2 separate regions of the Homo sapiens genome follow, and region 1 is linked to region 2. Evidence: fine-mapped expression QTL. A gene starts in region 2. The other region holds a variant in brackets. All regions are shown on one strand. Distances are between the middles of the regions. Region 1 overlaps PLEKHA1 (pleckstrin homology domain containing A1). Region 2 holds the start of PLEKHA1 (pleckstrin homology domain containing A1).

What was found.
Region 1: its variant is fine-mapped to the expression of PLEKHA1 in atrial appendage (GTEx, PIP 0.91).

Annotation. Positions count from the first base shown.
Region 1 is chr10:122,398,162-122,414,165 of GRCh38, reverse strand. It overlaps PLEKHA1 (pleckstrin homology domain containing A1), which reads right to left. Exons shown (of 12, transcript NM_001001974.4): 4 at 13,778-13,823; 5 at 7,493-7,590; 6 at 1,121-1,246. Among named protein-coding and RNA genes, the nearest start is that of MIR3941, 11 kb to the left of the region's middle. The variant C/T (reference allele first, on the strand shown) is at 6,678.
Region 2 is chr10:122,366,192-122,382,195 of GRCh38, reverse strand. PLEKHA1 (pleckstrin homology domain containing A1) reads right to left here and starts at 7,488. Exons shown (of 12, transcript NM_001001974.4): 1 at 7,390-7,488. RefSeq lists silencers at 6,881-7,080, 7,091-7,250, 7,271-7,340, 7,381-7,490, 7,631-7,780 and an enhancer at 13,054-13,578.

The DNA of each region.
Region 1 (16,004 bases), 32 kb before region 2:
ACATAGTAACCAGAAGGTTAACAGTTTAAAATCATTACTTTTGGAAAAAGTAAACACACAATCCTAGCTTATTTTTTTATCCAACTTTGGTGGAAAATGTATGCTCTATGACAGCAGGGAATTTCTGTTCATTAACATACCCTTTGCCAAGCATAAAGAAAGCACTCAATAGTTAATTAATTAATTAATGTTGTAAGATTTCTAATCCCACTAATCACCCTCCCGTAGCAAAAGACCTGAAAAATGTGGGGAATGATACAATTTGATTTAAAAGATTTATAAAGTGTCAAAGTCTTTTGAGTTCAAAAGGCACACTGGTAATGAAAATACCCAAGCTTGGCAATACCAATTGATTACTTTAAAATTCTTGGTTTCTCAACTACTAGTAACTTAATATCCATTACAAATTCATCCTTTTCAATAGCAAAACAAGAAATTCAAGCTCAGACAAGAGTTTTAATTTCATCAAAAATTGTATGTAAATTTATATTTTTCCTAAAACTCAAATAAAGACTTAATTTAGCATATTAGTACTTCTGAGATATAACTTAGTTAAAATTCCAGTCTTCTGTTTAGCTCACTTAGGCCAGGTTGTAGAAAAAATAGATTTTAAAAATTACTACTTGCAAACTCTTGACTCAGCAATTTTATTTCTAGGAATTTCTCCTTTAAGAATATTCATCATAGCATTGTTTATAAAGTAAAAGAAACAAAAAGGAAAAGGAACTCTATTTGTCCAATAGAGGATTTGTAATTTATGGTAAATCCATGGAAGAACTACTATGCACTCATTAAAAATGATATAAAAGGATTTCTGATGACTTGGAAAATGTTCATGATACAAGTGAAAAAATCTGTTTACAAAATGTAATATACAACTCATATCTCCATTTCTGAGGTGAAAAGTACATGAAGAAAGGCTCAGAGAAATCATGAGAAGTTTTAAATGTTATGTAATTTCCAAATTTTTTATAATAAATACTTTTGAAATAAACAAAAATATTTTATAGTAATTGTATATTATACCAATTAAGCAAAGATGCACTGTTTTAGTTTTAATAATATAAAAATCAATATACAATAATTAGACCCTCACACAATAGAAGAGTTACTTAATTACCTGAGTGGGAGTAATGATGGGTACGCCACCAACAATATCAGTTCTGTAAGACACTTGCTTTTTCCCACATTCACCATGGCGACTTAGGTTATCAGAATTAGGCTGTGAGTCTGACTGCTTTGGTACCTGAAATAGTAAATAAAATGAATCATTTTGCAACCAGCATTATACATGTGAACCTGTTTTCTCGCAGAATTTCTAATTATTCATCCGTTTGCATACGGTTGACAGATACATATAAAAATTATAGTCCATGTATGTACTCCTTAAGTTATCACACTAATTTTTCTGTTAGAATAATATTTTATAATATAGCTATCACGTAATGAGTGCTTACTCGGGCAGGTACTAGTTCACACATTTTTCTCCTTTACTACTCCTGTCTACCCTATGCATAGGGGCTCTACCCCCACCTAAGAGGTAAGGAAATAGGCTCAGGGGCATTAGGGAATATAGATTCAGATCCTGACTATAATACATTCTAGCCAAGTGTGTGTAACTCTTCCAAGCCCAACTGCTGTGCTCTAGACCCTGTTTATTGGCACACTTACTATTGGCTTACAGCTCTTTGCTGTTTTCTTCCCTTTCTCCATTCCTACCCATGATTCTGGGATTGTGGCATATTCAGTCTTTCCTGGCTTCAAGACAGAGACTATTACCAAAACCATAGTGTATTCAATAAATGTTGAAAGACTCAATGGATGAATCCAAAGTCAGCAGAAAAAAGAATAGCAAAATTCTTAAAACAAATCAGAAGTTTCAAAACAAAACTTTTCATTAGAAATTTAAAGAAGGAATTCCAATACTTGGATCAATGATAAATCGTTCACAAGTACAGGAAAACAATGACTGTGGTAACAGCAGAATCTCACATTAACACCTCACTAAAGTGGATGAAAGAATCAGAGGTATCATAAATTTTTAACATATATTTTTGCTTTTCTTATGTGATCTATTCAGTAAATAAGGTACTCAGTTAATCATTATTTCTATCTGTAGACTGTTTAGCACATAGTCTGTATTTAAATTATACATTTTTAAGGCTGTGAATAAAATGTAATAAAATCTGCTCAGCATCAATTATAATGTTGAACATGATTTAGTCTTCTCCAATGATTTAAAGGGCACGTGGAACCTTGCAGTCTTTCAGAAACACTATGACAAATACTACTGACAATCACTGAAGTAGTGGTGTAGAAACATTTAACTTAAATAGTTTGCTTGTCATATAGCTAATTCCTGTTAATAGAGTACTGGTAGAACTACAGGACACCACTCACATTGTATTCAAAGGCTCAAACCGTTTATTAGTGTGATTCCAAAGCAGTGTGATTTCTCAAACTTTAGAGTGCATAAAGTATCACCCAGGAACATTATTTAAAACTTCAGATTCCCCTGCTTCGAACCCAGAAATTCTGACTCAACATATCTATAGTGCAGCCCAAAAACCTGCACTTTAAGCAAGAACACCAGACATTTTTGAGGCAGGAGTTTCATAAACCACACTTTGAGAAACACTGCTCTAAAACCTGTGCTCTTCTTCCATACGATGCTACTCCCACCAGATTTGTAGAAAAGAGGGTATACAATGCAGATAAGGATTTGCAAAGCAGCTTTCTGCAAAATATTGAGCAAACATGGTCCATGTGTATATGAAAGGATGCTGAGCTACAGTAAGTCCCAATCCACACAAATGTAATTTATGGATATAATAAATGACTTGTCTCTTAAGTGACTTCTAAAACTCCCTCTCCCTTCCTTCTCCACCTGCCTCCCTTGAAGAGGTTTCTCTCAGGCCCCAGGCCCAATCCTCCAGCCTCTGGTTCGTATTCATACTACAATGCCCTCATCCGCAGAAACAAAAGAGAGAGAAAACAGGAAAGAGAAGAGAATCCTGAATACCTCTTGAATTCTTCTAAGAACTTGCACACTTTGGAGTGCTTTTTAAAGACAATAAAATAATGAAGAGAATTTTCCTTGTCAAATAAAATTAGGATAGTATACCCTGGAATGATTTGCTAGGGAAGCCCATTATATTTTCTAATGAATAGCACCATATATTTCAATTATTCTGACAGAGAAAATATGGCCCAGTTATCTCATTGAGAAGAACAGCAACTAGCATTAAGAGAACCTGAAACCAGAGAGAAAACAATCTATTCAACTAGATAAAATGAGAGGTGCTGCTAAGAGGTGACCCATAAGAAAACTAGCAGTTATTCTCTCAAGAAGTTTAGTCAGACCTGGGAATTATTAGGAAAAACCTTTAAAATCATTCTAAAAAATACCGAAATTTATATTGGTTTTTCCATTTTTCTTAAATTACAGTATATTAAAAGTCCTTGCTTATGCTGTTAAGCTCACTGCTTCTAATTTGTCTTTATAATAAAATCAAATGCTAGTAGTTAACTTAGAACTGCATTTTACTATAAAAATTATCTAACTTGTAATCATCTTATTCCCTAAGAACAAGAAAAGTTCAAGCAAAATACCCATGAACATGGATAACTCCTCTAAAAACAATATGTACCTCTGTAAAACTTGGTCTAAATTCAGCCATTAAGATAGACATTTTCAGGACACACCCCTGCCCCAAACCATCCAACTGTCCAATGAAAATCAGAAAAGTGATCTCACTGGGCAGTTGGCACATGTCAGACACTGAATCCACTTGGTTTCTTTGTCTACTGCCTCTCTCCCTTTCCTTGGCTTTCTATCCTTTTTTATGTCCCAGCATTTTTTGTAGGAGATCTGAATGTAATCTTGGCAGGCATTTGCATGTGATCCTAGTAGTAGGAAATTCTAATAGTAGGAAAAGAAAAGGTAAAAATAACTAGAGAATAAAAAGATGAACAAGACAGATTTAAGTATTTATGAGTGAAATACATAAAAACGCTGCAGGTTTCTCAAAAGTTAAAGGGAAAGTTGATATTCAATTCACCAAGAATGAAAATATAATGTTGGGCTAGGCGCGGTGGCTCACGCCTGTAATCCCAGCACTTTGGGAGGCCAAGCTGGGCGGATCACTTGAGGCCAGGAGTTTTAAAACCAACCTGGACAACATGGCGAAACCCAGTCTCTACTAAAAGTACAAAAATTAGCTGGCTGTGGTGGCACACACCTGTAATCCCAGCTACTTAGGAGGCTGAGGGCTCAAGAATCACTTGAACCCCGGTGGCGGAGGCTGCAGTGAGCTGGGATAGCACCACTGTACTCCAGCCTGGGCAACACAGCGAGACTCTGTCTCAAAAAAAAAAAAAAGGATAAAAAGAAAGAATGAAATTGTCATAATGTTCAATTCACTGAGGATAAAAACGTGCAGACACAAACTCCTGGGTCTTACAATCTTTCTGAGAATTCTACATCTACTTGTTTCCAGTTTCTATTAAAAATATATCAAACTTGTGGAGTTTCTGCCACAAATTCAAAGTACTAATTTTTAGATTCAAATCGAACATTTATTTTTAAATTTTAAAAAAGACATGTTTAAAAATAATGGATCTCTGTTCAGGAATAAACCATATATATCTTAGACATTCCTTAATAATCAATAAGGGAACAGAAACCACCATATTTATGTTGTTTCCACTATATTTCCACTATATATATTTCCACTATAAATGAACAGTGGAAAGCATACTTTAAAATTTGATTTTCCTCACTCCAGTCATTGATACTCCCCCTTCGGGGCTGATTCTCCCACTGTTGCTCTTTTCCTTTTTGTGCGTATGTTTAATACAGATGGTCCAGGACTTACAATGGTTCAATTTTTCAACTTTACAAGTGGGTTTGTTGGGGTATTAAATGGATTTTCAACTTGTGTTTTTGACTTACAATAGGTTTATAAGGATGTAACCCCATCATAAGTTGAAAAGCAACTGTAAAGGGAAAAGAATTTCAAGTGGCACCCACCTAGACTCAAGTAAGGAAAGTCACAGACTATAGCGTTAGAGGATAATGGATTAAAATGGCAAGATATTATAACTAGGAAATAGTTTAAAAATCATCATTCCCTTACCCATTGCCCTCTAACCACCTCTATTTTGAAACCACACACTTCCAAACTCTAATTTTGGATTTCCAAAATTTTAAAATTTATATATCACACAGTACTTAGCAGACCACTAAATTAGAGTTGACCAAAATGAGAGTGATCCCATAGAAAGATTTATGTATTAAGTACATACATCAAAATGTACATTTTAAGTTTTCAAATAATCTACATGTAAATCATCAGCAATGTTCACAGGAAAATATAACAAATTGGAGATTCCACACTTTAATACACTTAAATGTATAAAATGCACATGAAACTGGTAAGATATTTTTAAGGAATAAAATTAACATAAAGCATCTTATTAAAGCATAGGAAATTATTTCATTGCTATCCTATGAGTTAAATGTGTGTCTATCAAAAGTTTATTTTTAATAAGTACTATCAAATCTATACTCACTTTAATGCAGTTATAACCACTTTATTAAGTAATAAGGATTTCTATAACTTCTATGTATTTATATTTTCCAAATGTGAATTATAAAAACATTAAAATCATTTACCAACAAATTTATCTTAAAAACTATAAAAATTTCAACAGGTAAAATAAAATTGCAAGACCACAAAAGCTACTTAGAAGTCTTTTTAGAATTCTATTTAGAATCTCTAACCTGTTTTTCCTTCATGCTGAAAAGCTTACCAGTGTCATTTGTATAAGACTGTTTCATACCATTGATAAATCAGACATAGCAATTCAAGACCCCCCAAAATGGTAAAAAGCCTGAGACCATTCACTACTTTTTCTCTTAAAGCACTAAGAAACCAGTGCTGCTTGTTATTGCAAATGGTAAAACATGAATTTAGTACAGTTACGAGATATTATCTTTCTAAAGAAATTTTTCAAGCAGGGAATATTTATTAGAAGAGTTAAAATGATTAGCTAAAAGCTTTTAAGAATATGTATGTCTGAATCAGGTTAAAAAATTGCTTTCCTGACACTGCACAAACCTAAAATAACTTCTGCTTCATGTACAGATCAGATGCGGTGCGTAGGCGTTTTCTGTCATGTGGTAACAAGCTGTTCTAGAGCAAAACAAAAAGATTCGACTAAACTCTGAGAACAGCTTTAACTATATTGACTCTTTATTGTGTTGTGATATAAATAGGAAATTATTCATTTTAGATGGAAACTAATGAGTGACTAACATATGCTGACTTTCAGGGCACATGTTCTTTGAGAATAAGTCACTTAGGGTCAGTATATAACTGCACTTTCTTTAAAAAAAACAAAAACAAAAACGCAATTGACACAAATCTCACAACACAAGAACTCCTTCCCAACATTTTCCAGGCAGGCCTGCTATGTATTTCTCTACAAAAGTGTAAAGGGAAAGGTGAGGCAAGGTATAATCAAAATAGAGCCTATCTACGTGCTGCTCATCATCACTAGCAAACTCTCTCAGTAAAGGTTGTTGTTGGCTTTAGGAACAAAAGAGTAAGGAGAGGGCTGTTCTTGTTCAGGAAGCAGTAAGGCACTGCACTTCAGAGTTCGGGCTCCAGAGG[C/T]CAAAAAACTGGACTGGGCTTCCAGCTCCATAATCTACCAGCTATAACACTGGTAGATTAATCTTTCTAAGCCTCACTTTTCCAGTTCATTTAAGTAAAACCTTCGGTCTAAGATCTGGCACAGTGTTAATAATCAATAAATATTCATCAGGAAACCAAAAAAGAAAAGAAGCACACATTAGAAGCAAGAAATTGTAGCATGGGAAAGGAGGGCAAGGGTACCAAGCCCTGGAATGCAAGGAAAAAAATCAGACATGGGAAGAAGTTTAGAGCCTGAGACAAACTTCTCAAGGGTCACATGGACAGGACCCTCTGGCTGCCGCAACCCTTCAGACACTATTCCTATCCCTAACCCTCATTTTTCAGCCTTCATCTCCCCTTGTCCTGCTCCTGTTTTCAACTCTTTCCCTATCTGACCCCAATCCCAGTCATGGCTTAGAAGAGAGAAGTGCCTATTCCCCAGGTAGGTGACAGGAAATCTCTTACACTATATTGGAAGAAAAATATATATCCTCCCGGTAGAACTCTACGTGCTAAGCGCATTTTCTCCTAGAAACGTTGCAAGAAGTGATTAAGATCTGCAGTAATATATCTCCTTATTAGGTGCATAAGTTAAAAAGACAATCATGGGCTGATTAAAGTGCCAACAGTCACCAAGTACAAGAAAACATATTCACATTCTGAACACCTGTCTTTTAAACAAAGCTTGAGTATGAAACCTGTTGGTAAGCTGGGAACATTTGGTAGGTGTATTTTCAAAATGAAAAGATTAATTCCAGACATCGAACGTTTTTCAAAAAAATACATATACTTACTGTAATTTTTATAGCTTTGTTTAACACATTTACCCATTCCACTAGGTCCTGCTGATCATTGGCTTGTAGGAAGTACTTCCTCATTCCTGCATTCATAACTGTTGACAGAAAAAAATAACACACCAAATATTGTACTTATTACCTCTAAATTTATGTTTGCAGTAGCTGAAAAACCTTGCTAAGTTCAACACCGTGACTCTCGTGGATTTGACAAAATATATCAGACCACATGTAATACAGCTTTTATCACACAATAACACAGGTAAAACTCTTATTTTGTTATGGCCATTTTGTTTATTAAATGGATACACCACAATACATTTAGTCAATCCCCTAATGATAGACACTTAGGCTATTTCCGGTTTTTGAAATTATATAAAATATCACAATGAAACATCATATACATATATTTCTCCACACTTGGCTAGCATTTCTGGGTGATAAATTTCTTGACATAGATTTGTTGGGTCAAAGACAATTGACATTTAAACTTTTTATAGGTATTTCCAAATCATCTTCCCACAAAGTTGAATCCATTCACATTCCTACCAACCACATACACATTTTATTTCATCGAATACCCCTCACCAGAACTGGTTGTTAGCACCTGTGGATACCTCTAGTTTCTAGTTTTCAAAGGCTCTGTGGCACTGGGGCTGGTAGTCTGCAAACAATATTTCCTAGACCCCATCTGAGGCCATTCTCTGCCACTGGGAGGTACTGATGAGAGACTGTAAGGTGGGAGAGGGGAGAAGGAAAGAGGAGACTCTCCTTGACTCCTGCTGTTGTTGACCTCTCTCCAACAGCAGCACACAACTAGCTACTGTTAGGAGCCTTTTCCTGCCCCCTATGCCAGCCTTGCAGAGTCCCCTTGGATACTAATAGCTCCATGGTGGCTTCTACTCCACTGCCCTAGGTTATAGTAATACTACTACCCCTTCTCTTTTGTCTCTCTAGCCCTTGAGTAGTAGTTGCTTCATGCGTCTAATTCCTGGGTTACTTCAGCATTCCCTTCATGTTCTTTCAGCCTTCCAATATTTGGGTAACCAATTCCCCATAACAAATCCCTTAGGTTTGAAATATCTAGTGTGCTGTTTTCCTGGCTAATACTCTTTAACAACCTAATTGGTAAATAATTGTACCTTGTTCAAATTTTAATTTCTTTGGTTATTGAGATAAATTAGTTTTGTAAGTTTATTGGCCATCTGCATTTATTTTGTAAGTTTTGTTTACTTTCTTTACCCACGTTTCTCCTGAATTCATTATTAATTTATAGCAACTTCTTTATTAATCTTTTCTGCTTTATTACCAATACTTTACCCAGTCTGTTTTACTTTAACAGTATTTTTGATCAGACAGAAATATACTATGAATCTTTTCTATAAATGCATCCAGATTTCATATCATCTAGAAAATCTCCCTAACTTAAGATCTATTTTTCTAGACCTTATGAATTTCCTTTATATTTTGAATCTTAATACATTTGGAACTTTTATGCAATTTAGTTTCTATATTCCCCTTTAGGGACTAGGTACTTTTATCAAGCAAAGCACATGTGCACATACAGTTGTCTATAAACTATCATAGTCCACTCTTGAATTAAAGCTATTTATTATACACCATCTGCATTTATTTTTAAAAGCATAAATATTATTCTAGGAGCTAAGTATCTGAATAGTTATACTGTTGCAATTGTTCAAATATAAAAATAACTTCCAAACGTCTCCACCAAAATTTTAAAAGATATACTAGCACACAGTTCAATGTGACTGAGAAGGGGAAATGCAAACTCTCAAGGAAAACACACAAGATTTTGAAATTGGGACTGAGACCAAAACACTCTAAACTACAGCTTCCTTGAATTGAGATGAAGGTCTCAGAAAGGAAGTCAAAGCCTATCTTGTAAAGTGCTACAAAACAACCAGTCTATAACCTTAAAAGAAATTTAACACACTGGAAATCTGTTCTTGTACATCTTTCTAGAGACTGGAAAAGTTATAACTGCCATAAATATGTATTAAGATAAATCCATAATTCACTAGGATGCTATATCTATCAATAAATAACTTGTTTTTAATTTCTAGCCATCGGTAAGGCTTCCTTTTATAATCTTTTTTCAGCTTAGGCTGAAGCAGAGCTCTCCTCATTCATAATGGCTTCTTCCCCTCAATGTTATTTTGGGCATCTGCCCAGAATATCTGAAGAATTTAAAAATCTATGCACTTACTAATATACTACACTTGGTACACAGTAAATGCTTAATACATATACTTTTGAATAAATATATAAGGATCTTTTCTAAGGGAAGGAAGAGATGCAAATATATATCTAAAAAAGACCCCTAGTATACCTTGCAATCTGAATAAAATCTCATGTACTTTAAGAATTACTTCATGGCAAGACGTAGATATATAGGTATGATCTAGAAAAAAAAAATCAGTCTGGAATCAATCCAACCTGACTAGCTTATGCACTTACAAGCAATATCATCTTTTAAACATTATTTAATTTCTCTGAGCCCGATACTCCTCATCTGTGAAATGGGAATGTCACTCATTCCACCTCCTTAAGAGGTGACGATCATATATGTAAAGAAACTAACACAGTGCTTGGTATAGAATATTCTTCACTGCCATCATCTGGAGATTTCTAAGGAGTAAGGAAGCACTATAAAAAATGTAAAGCAGGGCACAGTGGCTCACGCCTGTAATCCCAGCATTTTGGGAGGCCAAGGCAGGCCAGTCACTTGAGGTCAGGGGTTCGAGACAAGCCTGGCCAACATGGTGAAACCCTGTCTCTACTCAAAATACAAAAATTAGCCAGGCGTGGTGGTGGGCACCTGTAATCCCAGCTACTTGGGCGGCTAAGGCAGGAGAATCGCTTGAACCCAGGAGGTGGAGGTTGCAGTGAGCCAAGATTACACCATTGCATTCCGGCCTGGGGGAGTGAGGCTCCATCTCAAAAGAAAAAAAAAGGGGAAAGCAAGTTACTGAAATGTGGTGTATTAGCAATATTGGTGGTGAGGGGAGAAAGGGAAAGAAATAAAATCTTTGAACAATAAAAAAAAAAAAACTCTGACACTGCTAAGTTGCCATAAAAACCCTAAAGCAAGGGTTTCATTGTGAATAATACATGCATCCCTAGAAGCTTGTATCCTTCCTATCTTTTCCACTTGAGTATTTAACTTCAAATCTTTATGATTAGAATGAATACATAAAATGGATAAAACTTGAAGCATAAACATTAGCTTAACTGCAAACAAAAATCATCTCACAACCTGAGATCAACTGGTTATGAATATACGGTTTTGGATCAAGAGGTTCTAAGGTATTTTATCATATTCTTTGTCAATTTTCCCCACTCTGTTTTCTCTATTCTGTACTTTCCTCTGTCCTCTCAGTCTCTATCAGATGTTGGACTTCCTTGATGGTTTTTATCTCTTTTCCATTATCTATCTTTACCTTTGTTGTACTTTCAGATTTCTTTGACTTTTTCAAAGAAATGCAAAATGAGTTTTGCATTGTCTCATGTTCCTTCTCCTGTTTGATAATCCGCTCTCATCAAATGTTCAGTAATCCTGGGCTGTCTATTCATATTTTAAAAGAAAGTGCTAAAAAGACTGATGAAAAGCTCTCTTGCATTGTCGTAGGGCTGTTGATTGTGGACCTTACTAGTCAACTATGGCAAGCTCTTCTAGTAGAAATGCCCAGATGTCAGTCAGTATCTATGGATCTTTTCTCTAGGGTAGTCAGATCTTACTCACCTAAACCTGGCTGCCCAGTGCTCTGGGGCTGGGGTTGCACTGATTGTGCAGACTTTCATTTAAGATATCTTCCTATTTTCAGTTTCGTGCCTCATTCCTTTCGTTCTCTGGGACTAGTGCCCCTAAATATACAGCCTCACTGATTCTATTTCTGGAGACACCACACATCCCATTACCTGCTGGGACAGAAGAAGGGTGTCTGCCCGATTGGAGGTAGGGAACAGAGGTTGTTTCTGATACAGATATGCAAACAAAGTCCCTGTTTTTGGTCCTTCCTCACTGTTGCTTCCCCAGAAAATGTATCTCCTATACCTAAGCCTATCTAGAGTTGGGGTGGGGGCAGAACACTTAAATGGTTAGCTTTTCATTGGCCTCTTCCTCCACTCTGCTAAATTATCTACCATTCCTCTATCTACTTTCCAACTTTATACACTGAGGGTTACAGATACTCTGCTCCCTCCATCAAAAATGGCTTGCACGTTTCTTGTTCTCACTGGTTTGGGACAATCTGAGAGAAGATATGTTGCCACTTTGAATGAAAGTTGTGGTTCTATTTTAGAAGTCAGTGCTTCTCTCTCTGAAGGTAAGCATTTCATGAATCTTTACTCCCACTAACAGTAGAGGACTAATAAACTATTGCCTGACCAATGAACGACTAATCTTAGTTTTTGATTCCAACTAAAATCACCCATTCTAAATACTCCAATAACTATGAATGTCAAGTCTATTACTGTATGTTACTATTCCTGTAAGTTTGAGATTTTAGAAAAAAAAGGGTTGTCAAAAGTATGTGCATTATACATTCTAAAATACAAAGTTCTCAGTTATTTGACTTGCAATACCCATTCAATTACAAGGCTCTGAGGCATTTTCCTGTTTCGTAACCAAAATTATAATTAGTAATAAACATGTAACTTTTAAAAATAGCTTCATAGTGAGATAAAAGCATTTTAGAGGATTCCCTTGACAGCCACGTTTCATCTTGCTCATATCAAGATGCTATTCCTAACTACTGCCTAAAGAAATCTGCCCTTTTCAAGCAAAAGAGAGCAAAGAACTTCAATTCTACTCCCAAAAGTATCTCTCACTTTAATGTGAAAGTCTCTTTTGATGTTAGTTGACCACTCCAAATATTCGTTCCTTCAGTCACTCATGTCCACTAACATACTCTCTGAGAGGGTATCAATTCTCCTAGCTTCGACTACCACCCACTTTTCAACAGACTCCGAATTTCTCCATTCTTGACCCTAAAGCTCCATCCAGTCCTCGATTACTGTCAACAGAACATTTCCATTTGGAAGTTCCCCACCATTTCAACTCCATAGCAAACATTTTACCCTATGTAACCAGCTCTCCCTGATTTCTCATTTCTTTACTTGAAGCAAACTTCCCTGCTACCTCTCTCTTCCCTCCAATTCCCCCATATCCACCAAGCCCCTGCACTTTTCCTTCTTTTCACCCTTCCTCCTTCTCCTATTGCCACCACCCTAACTCAGGACCTTACATAAGTACAGTAGTTCAAAAGACACTTACCCAGTCTACCTATATCAAAACTTTCCTATGCATACAAAAAAACAAACAAACAAACAAAACCCTCCTTCACCTTATGTCTGCTTTCCAGATGCTCTCTTTTTCTTCTCCTTTGTTCAAAGTAATAAAACCTATTGCTCGTCAAAACACAGCACCCTGGCTTCTGCCTGCCTTTTTACTCTCTAGCCATTTATCATACCCTCTAGCTTCAGAGTGTTCAGCTCCAGAGACACCACGCTCTTCTCCCCACAAGCCTCTGCATGTAGTCCTCCTGCCTTTTCTCTGCAGTGGTAAAGGATATAAGCAGGAGGCTAGCTGGCCACCAACGTAAGCATCTCCTCCTCCAGTGAGGCTCCCCGACTCCTGAGCTCCCCAATAAAGATTTGAAGGTCATTCTTTGTGCTTTAATAGACTGCATATCCCTTTATCTACAGGTTGTGACAACTGCAATATTAATTGCCTGGTATTTTTTATTTATGAGCCAACCAGCCTTAAGGGCAGCAACTGTTTCTTATTCATCTTACAGCTCCAGTGCCAAGCACAGTGCCTGGCATATACTAAACATTTGCTGGGTAAGTTAATCCAATACCCTCAACTACTCCTACCCCAAACTGAGCATTTCTCACTACCCAAAAGCTAAAGACCAAATCCTTTTAATTATTTATATGTTTAATATAGAATAACATGACGTAGAAAGTTTAAAATTCCCTGAAATCTCACTGGAGGTGATCATTATAAATGCCAAAATAACAGTTACATATGGGTAGAAGGAGATGTTTGTAACTAGGACCGCACACAGGAAAGAGGCTTCAGGGTTAGGGGAGAGGGGGTGCAAAATGTTATTTCCTTATCTGTATAGCAGTTACAAGGGAATTCACTTTAGAATAATTCATTAAGCCCTAGGTTTTGTGTGGTTTTCTGCAACAGTTTTCTTTTACAATATGATACAATTATATCAGTCTATTTAAAATATATATAACATGGCTACTTACCAAAACAGAACTCCGCCTTTGGCCTTAGCTTAGTAGCATCGCTAACCTAAAAAGAAAAATAGAGACGGGTTCCTCACTTCTCCATATAATCCTAAAACCAACCTTATATACTATGTAAACTTCCACATGTATGATTCCCCAATAATCATACACATTTAGTAAACAGACTTAAAATTAAAGACAACTAAAAGAGGATGGCAAATTTAAATACATAGGATGCAGTTCCCAACTGTAAGAGGTAACAAATAATACTTCCATATTTTCTTTGAACAACTTGTTTTCTCTTCAAAGAAATGTCAGAGAGAAGCTGAAAGTAAACCATTAGGCTTTATGTCATACACACAAGTATTTTTAGTTTAAAATAATTTTCAAAATATCCTCAATGAATATTCTACAAGAACTATGCATTCTTCCCAAATAACATATTTCTAAATTAGCTATGATTTTTAAGCAAAAATGGGGCTGGGTAAAGAGGAGACTGTGTATTTAAAGTCCACAAATCTAGGCTGGGCACAGTGGCTCACGCCTGTAATCCCAGCACTTTGAGAGGCCAAGGCGGGCGGATCACGAGGTCAGGAGATCAAGACCATCCTGGCCAACACGGTGAAACCCCGTCTCTACTAAAAATACAAAAAAAAATTAGCTGGGCATGGTGGCGGGCGCCTGTAGTCCCAGCTACTCAGGAGGCTGAGGCAGGAGAATGGCGTGAACCCAGGGGACGGAGCTTGCAGTGAGCCGAGATCGCGCCACTGCACTCCAGCCTGGGAGACAGTGAGACTTCATCTCAAAAAATAAAAATAAAAATAAAAATAAAGTCCACAAATCCAGGCATTTAATTGAATTAATCTTAATCTTAATAATTAAGATTAAGACATTAATCTGCTATGAGGAGATCAAAATGGGACTGGATCCTCTCTTGTACAGGAGAATGCCCTAGGATAATGGGATCACTTTATTAAATGCAGCTCATGGTTCATTTTAGAAGATGAGGCAACTAGCTGCATTTGGTTGCTGCTATCCCTTTAAATCAAGTACCTCCCAGAAGCTCATTCACAACTATTGCCATGCTGTTGTCCAGTGATAGAACTTATAATTGTAGCATCCGTTTTGCACCTTCAAAAGGAATTCTAAGCCTGGGGTTCCTCATTGATCCCAACTACAAACTCACAGTTCTGAGTCACACAAAAGTTTGTTCCAGAAATAAATTTTTGGAACAATAAATTTTTTTTTGGAAAAAAAGTGGTACGTCCAAAGTAGAGTACAAACTGCACAATTTAAACTTCAGGAAGCAGGAGGACAAGATGAAAGTTACAGAACTGCACAGAAAAAAGGTTCTATTTTAAAAGAAGAGCAATGGAGGAGAGGAAAGCAGCTGGCCAGTTACCCCACCTACTTTACTGATTTCAAGAAAGAGCTTCCATACAATATTTGTCGTATGTAAATTTACATAGTATGATCTTAACAGAAAAATGTTTCCTTTTAAATGTGTAATCTTTATTGTCCAAGGGCTCTTTTCTTTTCTTTTTGGTCAATGAGAATGAATACCTCTACTGTAATACTAATATAAAGTATTTTATTTATATAACATCTATCTTCTAAACAGAGGCACATTTGTAAATTGGTCTTCTGTTGAAGTGATCTACCTTTGCCAACAGATCTCAGTATATGCATAACAGTACCCATATTATTTAATAATACTGTTGCTACCTTTTGCATCTCATATATAAGTAATCAACAAACTTTTATTACTTTTATGTAACACACATGCACACACACACACACACACACACACACAAACCCATAGGGTTAGCACCTCAGCATCACTTAGTTCCCTAAACATTAATAGAAGAAAATAAGAAAAAAATGTACCTGACAAACATAAAATCAAAATTTTAAAAAATAAAAAATAGTATTGCAAAATTACCAGAAAAACAAATAAGAAAACAGAAATGAAAAGAGACAAAGTGAAAAGAGGGGGAAAATCATCCTTTCAACATGAAAATGGTCCATATTTTCCTCAAAATAAAACATTAAGAAACAAAGTATCAAAGACAATGGGATTTAAAAGTTGAAAACAGTCTAAATAAACATAATACAGACTTAGAAAAATCTCCAGACTTTCTCAAGATAGAATTTGTTTCACTGATTTCTCCCTTTCTGATGTTCATATACCTGATCATAAAAGTTAATGTTAACTTTTGCAATTTGCCACATCCTGTAAGTTAAA
Region 2 (16,004 bases):
CTGTGAATGCACTAAATCATACATTTTAAATAAGTGATTTATATAGTGTGAATTATCTCAATAAAGCTTTTTCTAAAAAAAGAAACGATTACAATTGTCTTTCATTCTAGAGTACATAAGAAACCCTAAGGAATATTTCATCTCCCAGACCTCTATTGTTGGAGTATCCCAGAGGGTGGTCTGTGGATCTCTTTCCTATATATACTCAGTGTCTTGGTGAGGTTACTCATTCTCACAGGCCTAAATATTGATGACTTCCAGACTGTTATCTCCAGCCTTGAACACTGTTGACCTCCAGACCCATGTATACAACTGCCTATTCTACGGTTCCACTTATCTAACAAGCTATCTCAAACTTAACAAACTGAGCTCCAGATATTCCCCTCAGAATCCTGATCCAGCCTTCCCTAGCTCAGTAAAGGGCCACTCCCTTCTTCCAGTTGTTCAGGAAAAGTATCTTGAAGTCATACTTAAGTTTTTCTCACCCTGTGGTAGTCCGTTCTTGCATTGCTATAAAGAACTACCTGAGGCTGGGTAATTTACAAAGAAAAGAGGTTTAATTAGCTCACAGTTCCACAGTCTGTACAGGAGGCATGACTGGGGACGCCTCAAGAAACTTACAATCATGGTGGAAGGCAAAGAGGGAGGAGTTACCTCTTACATCGCAGGAGCAGGAGGAAGAAAGAGAGAAGAGAGAGGTACACACTTTTAAACAACCAGATCTCAGGAGAACTCACTCACTATCATGAGAACAGAAAGTAGGGATGTCTGTCCCATGAACCAACCGCCTCCCAACAGGCGCCTCCTCCAACACTGGGGATTACAATTCGACATGAGATTTGGGTGGGGACACAAATCCAAACCATATCCTACCCCATGTCCAATCCATCAGCAAATCCTGTTATCTCCATCTTCAAATTATAACCAGAATCCTACTTCTCACCACTTGCTACCTCTCTGGTCCAAGTGACCATGACCTCCCACCTGGATTATTGCCAAGGGCCTCTCCTGGATCTGGCCCTTACCCCACTTCAATCTATTCTCAACATGGCAGTCAAAGTGATCCCATTAAAACATTTATTCAAGTGTTCACTCAATAAACACGTACACATATTACTACTCACAAAGCACTTTTCTAAATACCTAAATATTAGTTTATTTAATCCTTATAACAATTTTACAGATGAGAAAACTAATAAGGCACTTGCTCAAGGTCACATGCTTGGGAGTGGCAGTGCCAGGAGTCAAACTGGAGGAGTCTGGCTCTAGAGTCACACTCCTCAATACTATGTAATACCTCACTCTGCTCAAAACTCTTCAGTGCAATAGATGTCAACCTTGGCCACTTATCAGAATTACCTGGGAATTTTAAAAATTCCTGATGCCTACGTTAAAACACCACCTCCCCCACCACCGCCGACCAATTAAATCAGAAATTCTGGGATGGGATCCAGGCATCAGTACTTTTTTAAAGCTTCCCCAATCATTCTAATGTTCGGCCAAGGTTGACAACCTGTTTCAATGGGATCCCATCTCACTCAAAGTAAAAACCTAAAAACCAAAGCCCTCATAAAGACCACTAAGCCTCGTCTGCCCTGTTACCCCATCCCAATACCCACCTTACTCATTCATTTGGCCGCTGGACTCACCAGACAAGATTCCCACTCGGGGACTTGTAACTCAAAGTCACGTTCTCAGTGAACACTGCCTTTTAGATCTTATCTAAAATTGCAAATCCTCCAAACCGTTTTGCTACTTCCACCTTGGTTCCCCATGTTATTCTTCTCCTTAGCATTTATTGATTATCTAATGAATGATACAGTTTACTTATTTACCTGATTCTTGTCTGTTTCCCCACACTGTAATGTAGGCTCCATGACAGCAGGGATTTGTTATTTACTGTTGTTTCTCCAATGCCTAACACAGTGGCTGTCACATGCAAGACCCTCAGTAACTATTTGTTGAACGACGGATGAAGTAACCCATAATTACTGCATCAAAGATTAACGTTAAGTTTCCAGATAGAAAGTTGTTTCTTCCTCATCAGACAAGAATCATTTACCAGATTTAACTGATTTATTTAAATAATGGAAGGAAAAAGTTTCAAATACTGTATTTCCACTTAAATTTATATTTTTAGTGAAACTTACATGAGGCAAAACCAGACACAATTATATTATTAACATGCCTCCCAACCCAAATTTCTCCTTCAGCTTTACTCATACTCTAAGGTATAGTTAGATCTTACAAATCAGTCATAAATTAACATAATTACAGTTAACACCTCATCAGTCAGGAACCAGGAAGCCAAAAAATAAGGCAAAACACAGAAACAGCCTGAGTGATATAAGAAAAAGCAAAGAAAAATTAAATTCTGTACAGTGAGACCTCAACAGGCCCACAAGACTTCACTATTATTTGTTAAAACATGTCGAGTGGGACTAGTCCTGTTGCCCCACAATCACTGACAAACACAAAGCTGAGGATATATAGACATAGAGGATCAAATATCTGTAGAGTCAGGCATGGCTCTGGCACCCTAATCAGCACCATCCTTCCACTCTGCAAGAGCAGTTGACAGAAGAGAGGGAAAGAACTGTAAGTCTTCAGGGAGAACGCAGGGAAAAGAAGGAGGTCTTCACCAAAACAGTGGCAGGGGCCTCTAACAGAAATCACTCATGAAGATCAGAGGAGCCTAGAACAGACTTGCATCCCATTCTCCAGTTCCACATCTGCTTATGCAGCAGACTGAGTGACTGACCCCATGTGTCTACTTGAAAAGGGGGACAAAGAGAATTGATGAGAAATGGCAGGGCACAGAAAGAAGGCAGACTTAAGTAGTCTGTATGCCACTATTCGACATCACAAGGAAGTGAGTTTCCAGTGGGTTGAATAGAAACCACAGCGTACCTGGATTGAAGTTGTTTTGCCATTATCAAAATATCTCGCTGCAGAGAGAAAAGATCTCCACCCCGACTCACACACATTCACGTAACCAGTGGGTAAACTGACAGGATGGGAGCAAGCAGATGGGTGTGTAGGTTGGAAAAGGTTTAGCTACAGAAAATTTCATACCCAGAAACTGTGCAGCAGGAGTCTCCCTGCAAGATCTCACCAAAAATGCCAGTTTGGTTGCCTATTAGTAGACTGCAATGGCCTGCCACTGTTAATCAAGAGAGGACTCTAATAGCACCAGATAACAAACACTTGTCTTTTTCTACTTCTCTTCTTGACACATTTGTATCCAAATAGATCCCTTAAGAGGGAAAGGAAAGAAGTATCCCAGGAGCTTACCACAAGCCGTCCATACCCCAAGTGCTTCAGTAAGTAAGTGGCCTGACCACAGGGTAAGGAAGGGAAAAAAAACCTTTAAATTGAATATATATGAGATTGAATGTTCAAACTGGAATAGACTGCAATTTTTTGTTTTTGTTTTTCTGTTTTTTTTTTTTTTTTGGAGACAGGGTCTCACTCTCCTGTCACCCAGGCTGGAGTGCCACAGCACAGTCTCTGTTCACTGGAACCTCTGCCTCCCAGGCTCAAGGGATCCTCCTACAACAGCCTCCCAACTAGCTGGGACTACAGGCACATGCCACCACGCCCGGCTGATTTTTCTATTTTCTGTAGAGACAAGGTTTCGTCATGTTGCCCAGGCTGGTCTCAAACTCCTGGGCTCAAGCTATCCTCCCACCTCGGCTTTCTGAAGTGCTGGGATTACAGGCATGAGCCACTGAGCCCAGCCTAGAGCTTTTTGATAACTGTAAATGACAGAAAAGCTATCATTTACCCATGATGTTATGGGGGGTGGGGGACAGGGGGGTGGGAAAGAGCCTACAAAATACAGTTAAAGGCAGTGAATAGTGAAAATTAAAACTCATTAAAACTCTTGTGTTTGTTCTCAGTAAGCTTGGACTGCTGAATAACCTGATGACATATGCAATAGCATTCTCATCCTTAATAATGGGAGGGAACACCTGACATGGAAATTCTCAGGAGGGATTTACTGTACCGGGTAAGATGCTACATTAGAAGCCCTCTGACATCACTTCCAATTCTAGTGCCTGTGATCGTCTTTTCCTTCAAGAGGTTAAATTCAATCCAGAATCTAGAGTTCAATGGTTAAACCATAAAAGGCTAGGCTGCCTAAAGGGCTAAAAACCACAACTTTCTGGAGAATAAAGCTATCAGACTGACAAGCCTGGTAAGAGTTCCATGTAGGAAACAATATTTTGCTCTAAAACTTATTTAACTTAAAAAAATCTTAAATGACTAATTTTCTTTTATATCCAACAGAAATTCCAGTTCAAAGAAAGCTTATAAAATCCCAAAAACCCTATCTTCCTGAATATTATCAATTCAACTAATTAAAAGGCTTACTAAAATAAATAGCAAACATATGTTTGCTTAAGCATCTTCTAGGAATCACAAACTCACATATCCCTTATTAGACAGTACCCACAAGAAAAAAAGTTACTTAGGGTCAAATGGTTTAATATTGCTCAGTAAGTGTAAGAGAGTTCTAGTGCTATAACAAATAACAGGATGCTTTATGTTTACATAAAAACATCCCATATTTTTATGTTTCTAAAAATAATTAAGCATTATAAACAATCATCTAAAGCTACCAAGTTTTCTGCCCTTTCTGAAAGCATTCCTTTCAGACACCATGTCAATAAATTCTTAAATGCTGGATGTGTACTCACAAATGGTCAAAAAACCTAAAACCAAATCTTAATATTTAACTCCTATTGAAGTCATTTTATTGTATCATTGCAGATCTAAAACAAGATTTTTTAATCTTGAAATTTAAATTTTAATATTAACAAAAGTAAACTGCTCCAGCATGAGAAAAGTAATTATTTGCATATTACCTCAGCTCACAGTTGGAATCAAATAGGAAATACTTTAAGGCAGTTAGTTATATCAACCCAAAATTTTCTAATAAAAGCAATGTTACTATTGTCACAAATAATTACTACACTATATTCAGAAAACTATCTTCCCCATTCTCAAATAAGTTATTTAAACAATAATGACTTGACATCAAGCAATATGTCAATGTCAAAGTATGACTTAAATTATATTAATAAACTATTTATTAGATTTCATTCTGGGTTACAAATTATCACACAATTAAAATAACTTCGGGATTTGCAGCATGACTAATAATAATAAAGAACTTCCAGGCTTAAGTCAAAAAGCCACTTTGTTTAAATCTCCATTAAATGTTTTTTGTGGGGGGAAGTCCCCATAAAAATGTAAAATGTTTCCACCTTTCCCAAGTATCTTCCTAGGAGTGGTCAATATTGTCATATCCTATATGTTAGCAAACGATACTTGAATGACTTTTAAAGAAAAGAATCCAATGCTATTCTTAACATCCTTAAACACTTCTAAAAAGGTCCTTCCGGCTTATGAACTCATGGCAGTTTCCTCACAATTGTATACTTATCCTGTTTCACTGTCTCTCCTAGTCTATGACAAACTCAATTTTACACACCATCTTTCCTATTTTGTTACACTGCTAAAACTGGGGAGAAAAAAAGATACAAACCTGCTACTTTCCCCCCTCCCAAAGCGACAATGAAAATACTAATTAACAAGATAAAGATTGGAAGCTCTGCGCGCGCCCGCGCGGTGTGTATACACATATATTTATATTATATATATATATATATATATATATATATATATCTTCTTAATGTCACTAAATTCACAGCCATATATCTTGATACAGGTATACGCTACAAGAGAAAACTGTCAGTAGATACAGTGTAAGGTTTACGGCAGTATAAAATAAATTAACTACTTTATTAATTCAAATTCTGTCAAACTTAAATACTCTTTTTTAAATGTATCAGTACTCTAAAATGCAATTTTCCTTGGGAAAATTGGCCAAGATAAAAAATACTTTAACTCCACTAGGGGAAATATTTCTTTTGCCACAAGTGTGTCAACAGGAAAAATTAAGAGCATGAAAAGTAAACAGGTATTTTGATCAGAATAAATCTTATTATTTTAATATAACGGGTCTTCAAGTTCTTCAGATTGTGAAGAAAAACACAGTTTCACAAAACAATCACATAACTCTTACCCAAACTTTGCTGTAAATGGTTTCAGTGGCATCAAATTAACATAGAAAGTATGCAAGCTGAGTACTTGGGAAAATAAAGCAGATTGATCAGGAGTTCTAAGATGAAAGACAATGGTGTAAACCTCATAGTGCACTATTTGTTCCAGTCATTAAACACACAGGAAATAAGATTTTCTATTTAGAAAACTAACTCACAAGGGGCAATGACTTCATTAAAACAAAGAAAATCTTATTAAAACAACGATCAATTGTAAAATAAGAAAACCAGTACTGCAGAATTGGAAGGTGAAACAAACAGACGAGGAAAACGCAGAAACTGCCTGGATATTTATTTGTTCCTTGAACCTCTTCTTGTACTGCCCCCAGAGAGCAAAGGAGTTTCATTATTTATACGCCCAGACCACGGTAGATGCTCTGCGCGGGGGCACAGCCTCACCAGAATTCTACCAAAGGCGGTAAACACTATAAGCAACAGGACCGCTTTCATTATGACACACTTTCCCCTCTTTCCAGGAGGTCAATAGAAAGCATCTGAAACAAACCACAAACCACTCAAGACGGCCCCAAAGCTCTGCGGTTGGCAGCTGGCCTCGGCGTCGAAAGACCTGGGTCTGGTCGCCTCCCCGGTGCCACCTGCGTGACCTTGGGCAAGTCGCTTTCAACGCTGCCTCTGGCCACCTGCCCCGAAGGTGCGGAGGTAAATCGCGGACACCGCCCGACTTCAGGGCCCAGGGCGGAGCCGGCTTCGGCCTCGGCAAGTCCTGAAGCCAAAATGCATTAAACACCAGGAAAGGATGCCCGGGGACGCGCGCCCCGCGGGCACAGCCCTGGAGGGAGGCGCTCCGACCGGCGCCACCGGGAATCCCCGGGCAGCTGCGCGCACCGCGCCCCGAGCGGGATTTCTCGGGGGGCGGAGACGCCGAGGAGCTCGTCGGCCCCGCGACCGCCGCGGGCCTCCCGCCCTCCCCCGCCGGGCGCCGCTGAGGGCTGACGTCGGGAAAACAATCGGGGACCCACGGGAAGAAGACGCCGCCCCCTCCCGCTGCCCCAAGCCAGGGCAGGTGAGCCGGCCCGGCGGCCTCCAGGTGCTGTGGCGCGTGGCGCGGACGTGCGCAGAGGGGGCGCCGGCTCCGCACTCACCAGCACCCACCGCCCCTCTGCGGACGCCTCCCCGCTCGCCACAGCGGGAACCGCGCTCCAGCAGCCCGGCAGCCCCGCAGCCGCCGCCACCTCGCGCCTGGCCCCGTCCACCACCCCTGCTCCAGCGCGGCCGCGTTCTTCAAGCTAAACTTTACCGCGGCCTCGGCCCGGAGCACCCGCGCCGCCGCGGCCCCGGCTCCCACAGAGGCTCGGCTGCCCGGAGCGGCGTCCGCGACGGCCAGCCCGCGCACTGCGCACGCGTCCCCACGCTGCCTCAGCCCTCAGACGGCGGCTGAGATTCCGGAGCGGGCGCTCCCAGCCCGCAGAGACTACGAGTCCCGGCAGGCCCCGCGCGGGTCCCTGCGGCGTGGCGGGCCGAGTTTCTGGCGTCTTCCTGGTTCCAGCGGCGGCGGCCTCGGCGCGCCGGGGAGGCCTGCGCGCGGAGCTCTGGGCCGCCGCGCCGCGGTGCTTCCTGGTATTCGTAGTTTTTGACCACCACTGGGCTTGGCTCGGAGGTAGAACTCCGGGTTCTCTGATGTCATCGCCTAGAGCTGCGAGGAACAGGGATCTTTAAAAATAGGCTTCGTTAGTTTGCAGATAATTTGTTTGCAAGCTGTCCCATAATCGGTCCAAGTGTCACAAATTTACAGGCTGCGGTGTGACCTGGAGAAAAACGCTTTACAGCTCTGCGCGCCAATTTTTCGCTCTTCTCTCTCCCTGCAAATGTAGCTCCACTGCCTACTTACAATGGTGTTAATAGTACAGGAGGGTAAGAGAGACTTAAAGAAGGGTTAGTCGAAATTCTTTCAGCAACGGTGGAGCATAAATATGTATTCTGGTAAATATTCGTTGAGTGTTTAGCAATTTCTCGAGCACTTAACTGTGTGCCAAGTACGCGATAGGCAACCCGGCATTCATCTGAGAAAGAGACACTGTCACTGCCCTTATGGAGCCTGCAGCTTGGGGGAAACTCGTCCGCAAACTAGCAAAATCGTTCCAGATTTTAATAGAATGGCCAGACTGAGAAAGTTCAAGAGACAGTAGCGGTGGCGGGGACGGGGGGAGGCTCTTCAGAGAGAGTGGCAAGGCAAGTTCTCTGAGGATGTGATATCTGAGCTGAAACCTGAAGAATGAGAAATATTCAGACAGGCAAAGAACTGGGAAAGAATTACATGCCACGCCTTTCACAGCGCATGCCACTCTAGGCTCTTAATAAATATTTGTTCTTTTTGTGTGCTTCTTCCTTTCCTCTCCTTGCACAACCTTAGATCACATCCTATCCCCTTCAAACCCTTTAAAAAATCTTTATCAACATCTTTTAGAATATCCTTCCTATGTGAAAATGTACATGAAACAAATGTCCAGTGGTAAGACAAGCTGTACAGCTGCTAGGACAGAAGACACAACCCTGGTGACAGGCTGGAATCTATCTACTTTGCCACTTTCTTTATTTGCGAACTGGGTTAGAAGTCTGGGGGCTCAGCCTGGCCTCCTGACTTGTTTCTCTTCATGGGGCATCATACAGGATTTTGAGTTTGTCTTTATTAAAATCTTAGAGGAAGCCTACCTGTTATCTGAATCAGAGGTGTAGTGAAGAACAGCCCTAGATTTTCCTGTGTAGACTTACCTATGTGACTTTATGCAGAGAGTGACACTTTGCCCTTCTGACCCTCAGTGACCTCGACTGTAAATGAGTGTCATCCACCCTGCCTGCCTTGCAGAATGTTCTCAGAGTCTGATAAATTGATGGAGGTGAAAACATCTTGCAAACTGCATAGAACGGCTCTCTGACTGCCTCTTTGAGACTTAGCATTTTCAATTGCCTTTCATCCAACGTGATATTTTGGTTATCTTTTGAGAAACCTTAGCTATGCAGCCTTGCTGACATCTGTCCCTTTTGGGGTCCTCATCTGTATAATGGTTGAAAGGGTTTGGCCTCACTATAGTTTATAAAGTAGCCAGAGCAGATTGTTTCCTTTGGTCCACACAGTGGGTTTTTGTTGATTTAACTGAATGTGTGGTTAACATTTAAAAATAAAAATCTAGGTGTCACCTGTCTTATCCCTGTAGGCATTTGAGTTTGCCTTCCCTGGCTAGAAGGTCTGGAAGGAGTCTCTAGCTTGTCAGTGCTAGAATCCTAGAAGATTCCAGATGGGAAATTTGTTTATTTGAAATTCAAAGTCAAATTCACATCTTTTATTTGATCTGAAAATACTGGTCCTGAGAATAGAACACTTAGGCCAAGAGCCTCTCACCCTCTCCAGGCTGGACCCGCCGGATCTCTCTCCTAAATGTTGTTTGACATCATTGATGAGTGGTTTGAAATTGTTCCTTTGGCCAATGTGATGGCTCCTGCTTGTAATCCCAGCACTTTGGGAGGCCAAGGTGGGCGGATCACTTGAGGTCAGGAGTTTGAGACCAGCCTGGCCAACATGGTGAAACCCCCTCTACTTAGCCAGGCATGGTGGTGGGCACCTGTAGTCCCAGCTACTCGGGAGGCTGAGGCAGGAGAATCAACTGAACCCACGTGATGGAGGTTGCAGTGAGCTGAGATCGTGCCACTCTACTCCAGCCTGGGGGACAGAACGGGACTCAAGAAAAAAAAATTGCTCCTTTGTTCTTTTTGCATAACAAGTCCCCAAAACTGTTTATCATTGAGAGCCATATTTACATACAGTAAAGAAAGCCAGAAAAGTAACTCAGTTTGCCCAAGGACACACAACAAGATAATCCCAGGACTGCTTTGAGGTTGCAGTATAACCAGAACTTCATAGCTCCCGATCAGCCAATAAATACAGAGACAAAAAAAAAAAGCTCTCTGCTTTTCTTCCAGCCTCTTTTTTTTTGGATGCAGAGGTTTATTACATAACAGTGCTTTCAGTGCTATTTAAAAAAAAAATAGTACAGGGAAATTACAGTCTGGGAGCAAACCAAGAACACTCAGGACTCACTGAAGGCACTGAGGAATGCTGGAATATTCCATGGCTACTTTTCATCTGAAGAAAAAGGAGGAGTCTGAATTCAAGGATCTATAGTTTAGCTGTTTACTTTTTTTTTTTTTTCTGCCGGAAGGGACAGAGTCTCGCTCTGTCGCCCAGGCTGGAGTGTGGTGGCACAATCCCAGCTCACTGCAACCGCTGCCTCTGAATTCAAGTGATTCTCCTGCCTCAGCCTCCCAAGTAGCTGGGATTACAGGTGCCTGCCACCATGACAGGCTAATTTTTGTATTTTTAGTAGAGTCAGGGTTTCTCCATGTTGGTCAGGCTGATCTCGAACTCCTGACCTCAAGTGATCTACCCCCCTCCTCAGCCTCCCAAAGTTCTGGGATTACAGGTGTGAGCCACTGCCCCAGCCTGCAGTTTACCTTTAAAGTATCACTGTCATCATTATCATCATGCTTTGCACGTGTGAAGTACGTTGATGTTTCATTCAAAAATAGCTCTTGGGCCCCTTCCATATGCTTAGTGCTGGGCTCTGGGGCTTCCAGACAGACGTCAGCCCCTCTGACAACACAAAAAGCAGCGTACAGAGGCACGCAGAAAGCTCCTGAATGCTAGTCACCTCTCTAATATTTGATGTCTGCAGCATTTCCTGCATTATCTTTTTCCCCTTAGCAATGGTCACTTTTGTACATATTATATATGTGCATATATATTTTTTTTTCTGCATATCCCTCTAAACTGTAACCTCCACGTGGCCAGGGATTTTATGTTTTGTTCCTGCTTGTATCCTTAGTGCCTACAACAGAAGTATGTGTTGAATGATGAATGCCACAGTCCCCTTTATGGACAGAGCCAGCATCAGAAGCCAAGCAGAAGGAGTACCTCCAGAAGCAAACCTCTGTTCTAACCAGAAATCAGAACCAAGATAGAACAAGAATTAAACATGAACTGAACACTCTCTGAACCCGGCTTTGTTCTTTTTGTGTCCCCTCCAGAAACTGGGTAGCAGAGAGTTAAAAACGGCTTTTCCCTATTTTTTAGTGTAAAAATGGCACAAGAACTCCAGGCAGCGAGTCAGTGGAGTTGCTTCTGTGGGTGAAGAGTCGGAGCTGGCTTTCTGACCCTGCCTCACAACTGGCAATGACCAAGTGAGGGGAAGCATGATTCTCAGTAATCACCCCAAGCAGGCACAGATTAAGTGACCTTCCCAGATTACCAATCAGGTGACTGGAGTCTCCTTCTGGAGCTAATTCTTGCATCCCAGGGCTGGGGCAGAACAATCCTCCTTCAGGAAGGTGCCACGAAAGATTGTCCACATTTTATGCTTACCAAGGTGGAAGAATAGGATTTCTGAAAAAGTCAGCAACCAGCCCAAATTCCAGGCCCACACAGGAAAAAAAACAAAAAACAAAAAACAAAAAACTGGGCATCCGGGGAGATGCTTGCCTCCAAGACTTGTAGAGAGCAGAACTAGGTCTTTCCTGCCTTAGGATTATCAGACAAGGAAGGGAGCCCAACACTGAACATCTGGGTTGGACAGGATCTAAAGTTGCTGAAAGCCACTGGAGTTCTAAAGGTCCCCAGCAACCCTATGATCTCTGGGGGTCTGGTGGGTTCCAGCTGCATCTACACCCTAGTTAGGTCATACATTAATTACCCTGACCACATGTGGCAGGCCTGGGATGGTGGTAAACCCTAAAATTGCAGAGCACAGGATGCTTGCTGTCATCCAAACATACGGACTCTTGCTCCAATGTGGTGTGAAAACTTGAAAAACAAGATTTTCTGAATCAAGATGATCATCCAGGGCCACACTTGGGTTGCTAATTGCAGCACTGAAGTAGGGAGCATTCTAGAAGGTGAAGACTCCTTGCAAACAAAGCTGGGAGAGAGGATCTGGGAACAAGTCCATCTTGGGCTTCACAAGCTCCTTGGCCTGGGGGAATTGTACCCTCAGACCCCTTCCCCTTACCAGACAGGGCACAGTGGCTCACGCCTGTAATTCCAGCACTTTGAGAGCGAGATGCAGGCGGATCACAAGGTCAGGAGTTCAAGACCAGCCTGGCCAATATGATGAAACCCCATCTCTACTAAAAATATAAAAATTAGCTGGGTGTGGTGGCGGGCACCTGTAATCCCAGCTACTCAGGAGGCTGAAGCAAGAGAATCGTTTGAACCTGGGAGGCGGAGGTTGCAGTGAGCCGAGATCGCCTCACTGCAGCACTCCAGCCTGGGCAACAGAGTGAGACTTCGTCTCAAAAAAAAAAAAAAAAAAAAAAAAAAAAAAGGAAGAGAAGCACAGAAGTCACTGCTTCCACCAGGAGAGTCTGGATGTCATGGGCCCCAGCCCAGGAAAGGAAAGTAAGAAGCTGGGGCCCTGGAGTCCATCTGCCCTGACTAGCTGGGTGACCTCAAACATGTTACCTCATTTCTCTGGCAATAGTTCCCACTTCACAGCCCCATCATTAGTCCTAAATAAAATAATGCAACAAAGGTCTGGCAGGTATTAGTGGCTCCATCAGTGTCAGCATTTCTATGATTTAGTTCGGCCTGATTCCCTGAGCCCACCTGACCAAGGCGATAATACATTCAGAGTCTCTTACATGGGCAGTGGGTAGGTTCTAAAAGTACTTTGACTGCTGTGGTCCTTGTTCATATGAGGGTGACTGGGATGGGATTGTGGTGTAGGATCTCGTGGAATTTGGTGCAATGGGGGAACAGGGCCGTGTGGATATGGTGCTGGGGACGTAGCAGAGACCTGACTTGGAAGGGCTCAGGCCGCCAAGCTAAGGGGGCACTTGAATTTGTTTCCCCACAAATCTAAGACTTTTGAAAAGCACTCCCAATGATTCTAATGTGCAGTAGATGTTTGGTTGTGCACCTGACCCCCACCCTCTCCTGGCCCAAAAATAAATAAGTATAAATGAACTGACGTGGGAAGACTAGAGCAGGGCTGTGATGACATCATCATTTCCCATCTTGTCTGGCTCCTTCAGAAACATTTCACTTTCATCTAAAACCTCCAGCTTGCCCTCCTTCCCCTACAACCTACCTGCCCTTAGACTAACAGCAGGGGCAGCTTTAGAAATAGCGTGCCTTCCCTGACCCCCTGGCATGTAAGTACATCTTTGTTCCTGAATGGCATTTAATAACAGTACTTTATGGTGAAACAAAAGCTGTAATCAGAGCCCAACAATGGAAGCTGCAGTCAGCGCTGAACAATACTCAGAATTCCCATGGTGATCCCCCCCATCCGCAGCTGTGAGAACCAGAAGTCACAAGCACGAATTCCATTCACAATTATTTGCCCAGTCCCATTGCAAGTTATGCGAATCACGGCTTTCCTGACCCCTTGGCGTGGCTTTCGAGGGGCTGAGAAGGGATGCCAAGCCTGGTCCCCAGCCAAGGGCAGCCAGTGCAGGTGTGCACATGGGGCTGACTCTGAGAAGCCAGTGCGGCAGCACGGTGACAGAGCCAGACTGCTCCCACGCTGGAGACTCCAGCAGCCATCTCTGCACCAGCACTTCATGCAAAACTTCCTTCACATAAAAGAAAGCTTTCTACCTATTTCCTTATCTGAAACTGCAGTCTGCACATTCCAGGATAAGCCTAGCAGCAGACTTCTCCTGCACCAAGTCCTGGATCCTTGGGGAAAGAAGGTCTTTAAGAGGGACTGCTCTCATGGGTGTCACGCACATTAGAATATGCTTCACATTAGAACTACTGGGAGTGCTTTAAAAAAATTCTTAAGACCCTACCCCAGCCCAATCTGAATCTCTGGTCACAAGAAACTGGGATTACTATTATTTTTTCCTTCTTTTCTTTTTGCTTTGTTTTGAGGTATAACTTAAATATAGTAAAGCCTACAACTCTTAAGTATAAAGCTCAATAAACTATGTGTCCATCATCCAGGGCAAGATACATTTCAACACCCCAGAAGGCTTCCTCTAGCTCTGGAAGCCAGAGGTAACCACTATTCTGATTTCTAGCTACATAGATTAGTTCTGTCTGTTCTTGAACTTCATATAATTGTCATTACACAGTATGGATTATACTCTTTTGGATCTAACTTCTTTTGCTCAACATTGTGTCTATAAAATTTATCCTCGTCAATGTGTGTTGTATTGCTGTGTAATATTCTCTTTTGCACACAAAGCACAATTTGTCTATATTCCAGTTGACGGACATTTGAATTTCCAGTTTTGAGCTATTATGAATAAAGCTGCTATGAACATTTTTATGCAAGTCTTTGGTGGACAATTGTACTCTTTTCTCTTGGATATTGGGTGGAGTTGCTGGGTTATATAGTAAGAGTACATTTAGCTTTATAAGAAGCAGTGAAACTGTTTTCCAGATTGGTACACCAGTTTTACTCCCACCAGCAGTGTATGAGAGTTCCAGTTGCTCCAAATTCTCACCAGCATTTGATACTGCCAACCTTTTTATTTTAGCCTTTCTAGTAGATGTGTAATGGAATCTCACTGTGGCATCAGTAGTTTTAAAAGACCTTCAGATGATGCTAATGCAAAGCCAGGGCTGGGACCCAAGGATATTATCTGCCTCTGTTTACAGACAGGAAACTGAAGATAAGAGGAGAAAGAGTCAAAGTCAAACTCGGAGCTCCCCACTCCTGGTCCAGGAATCTTCCCATGATACCTCTCCCTGGATGCTTAGTATTTGTCTGCCTTCCTGTCAGAACAAGGACAGATCTGGGCCAGAAACTGGGCATGACTTTAGCATCTTAGCACCACTGAGAGGGAGCAGAAGGAATTGGCAAAGCCCCTCAGGCTGGCTCCAGGGAGAGCATGTAGGTGGTCTGAAGCACCACAGCCCAAAAGCAGAGAAACTCCAAGCTGCTGTCAGTACCTGGAGAAGCCCTGGAGACAGCAGTCAGCATCCTGAGGGTAGCACCTGGCAAAGCCAAGCCCCTTAGGAGTTCTCATCTCAGTTCTGCCAGTTCCTAGTCACCCATACAGAAGCCTGATCACCACCTTTGACTCCTTCCCGTCTTCCTTCCCCATATCCAGTGAGAGACCAAGTCCTGCCAATTCTGACTCCTAAACATCTTTTGAATCCATCAATCCTCTCTGTCTCACTTTTCCTAGGTCCTCCCATCTGTGCCTGGACTCCTCACCAGCCTCTCTCCAGAAAAATCATTTTCCCATACAAACCTGATAAAGCCATTATCCTGCTTAAAAGCCTTCAATGGCTCCCAATTGCCTCAGAATAAAATCCAAGCTCCTTGCCGCAACTCTCCCTGGGCCTCTAAGCTTTCAGACCCTTTGTTTCAGTCTAACCCAACTGCCTGGAGTTCCCCACACCCCAGCTATTCCAGGTTCCCTGCCTTAAAAAAGAAAACAGCTTTATTGAGATATACTTGATATGCAATAAACTGGTGGACATATAGAAAGAGTACAATTTGGTAAGATTTGACCTATAAATACACCTGTGAAAACATTGCCACAATCAAGACCATGAACAAGTCCAGGTGCGGTGGCTCACGCCTGTAATCCCAGCACTTTGGAGGCTGAGGCATGTGGATCACTTGAGGTCAGGAGTTCAAGACCAGCCTGGCCAACATGATGAAACCCCATCTCTACTAAAAATACAAAAATTAGCCAGACGTGGTGGTGCACGCTTGTAATCCCAGCTACTTGGGAAGCTGAAGCAGGAGGATCGCTTAAACCCAGGAGGTGGAAGTTGCAGTGAGCCAAGATTATGGCACTGCTCTCCAGCCTGGGTGACAGACAGAGCAAGACTCTGCCTCAAAAAAAAAAAAAAAGGCGATGAACACATCTGTCACCCCCAGAACTGCCCTCTGCCCCTTT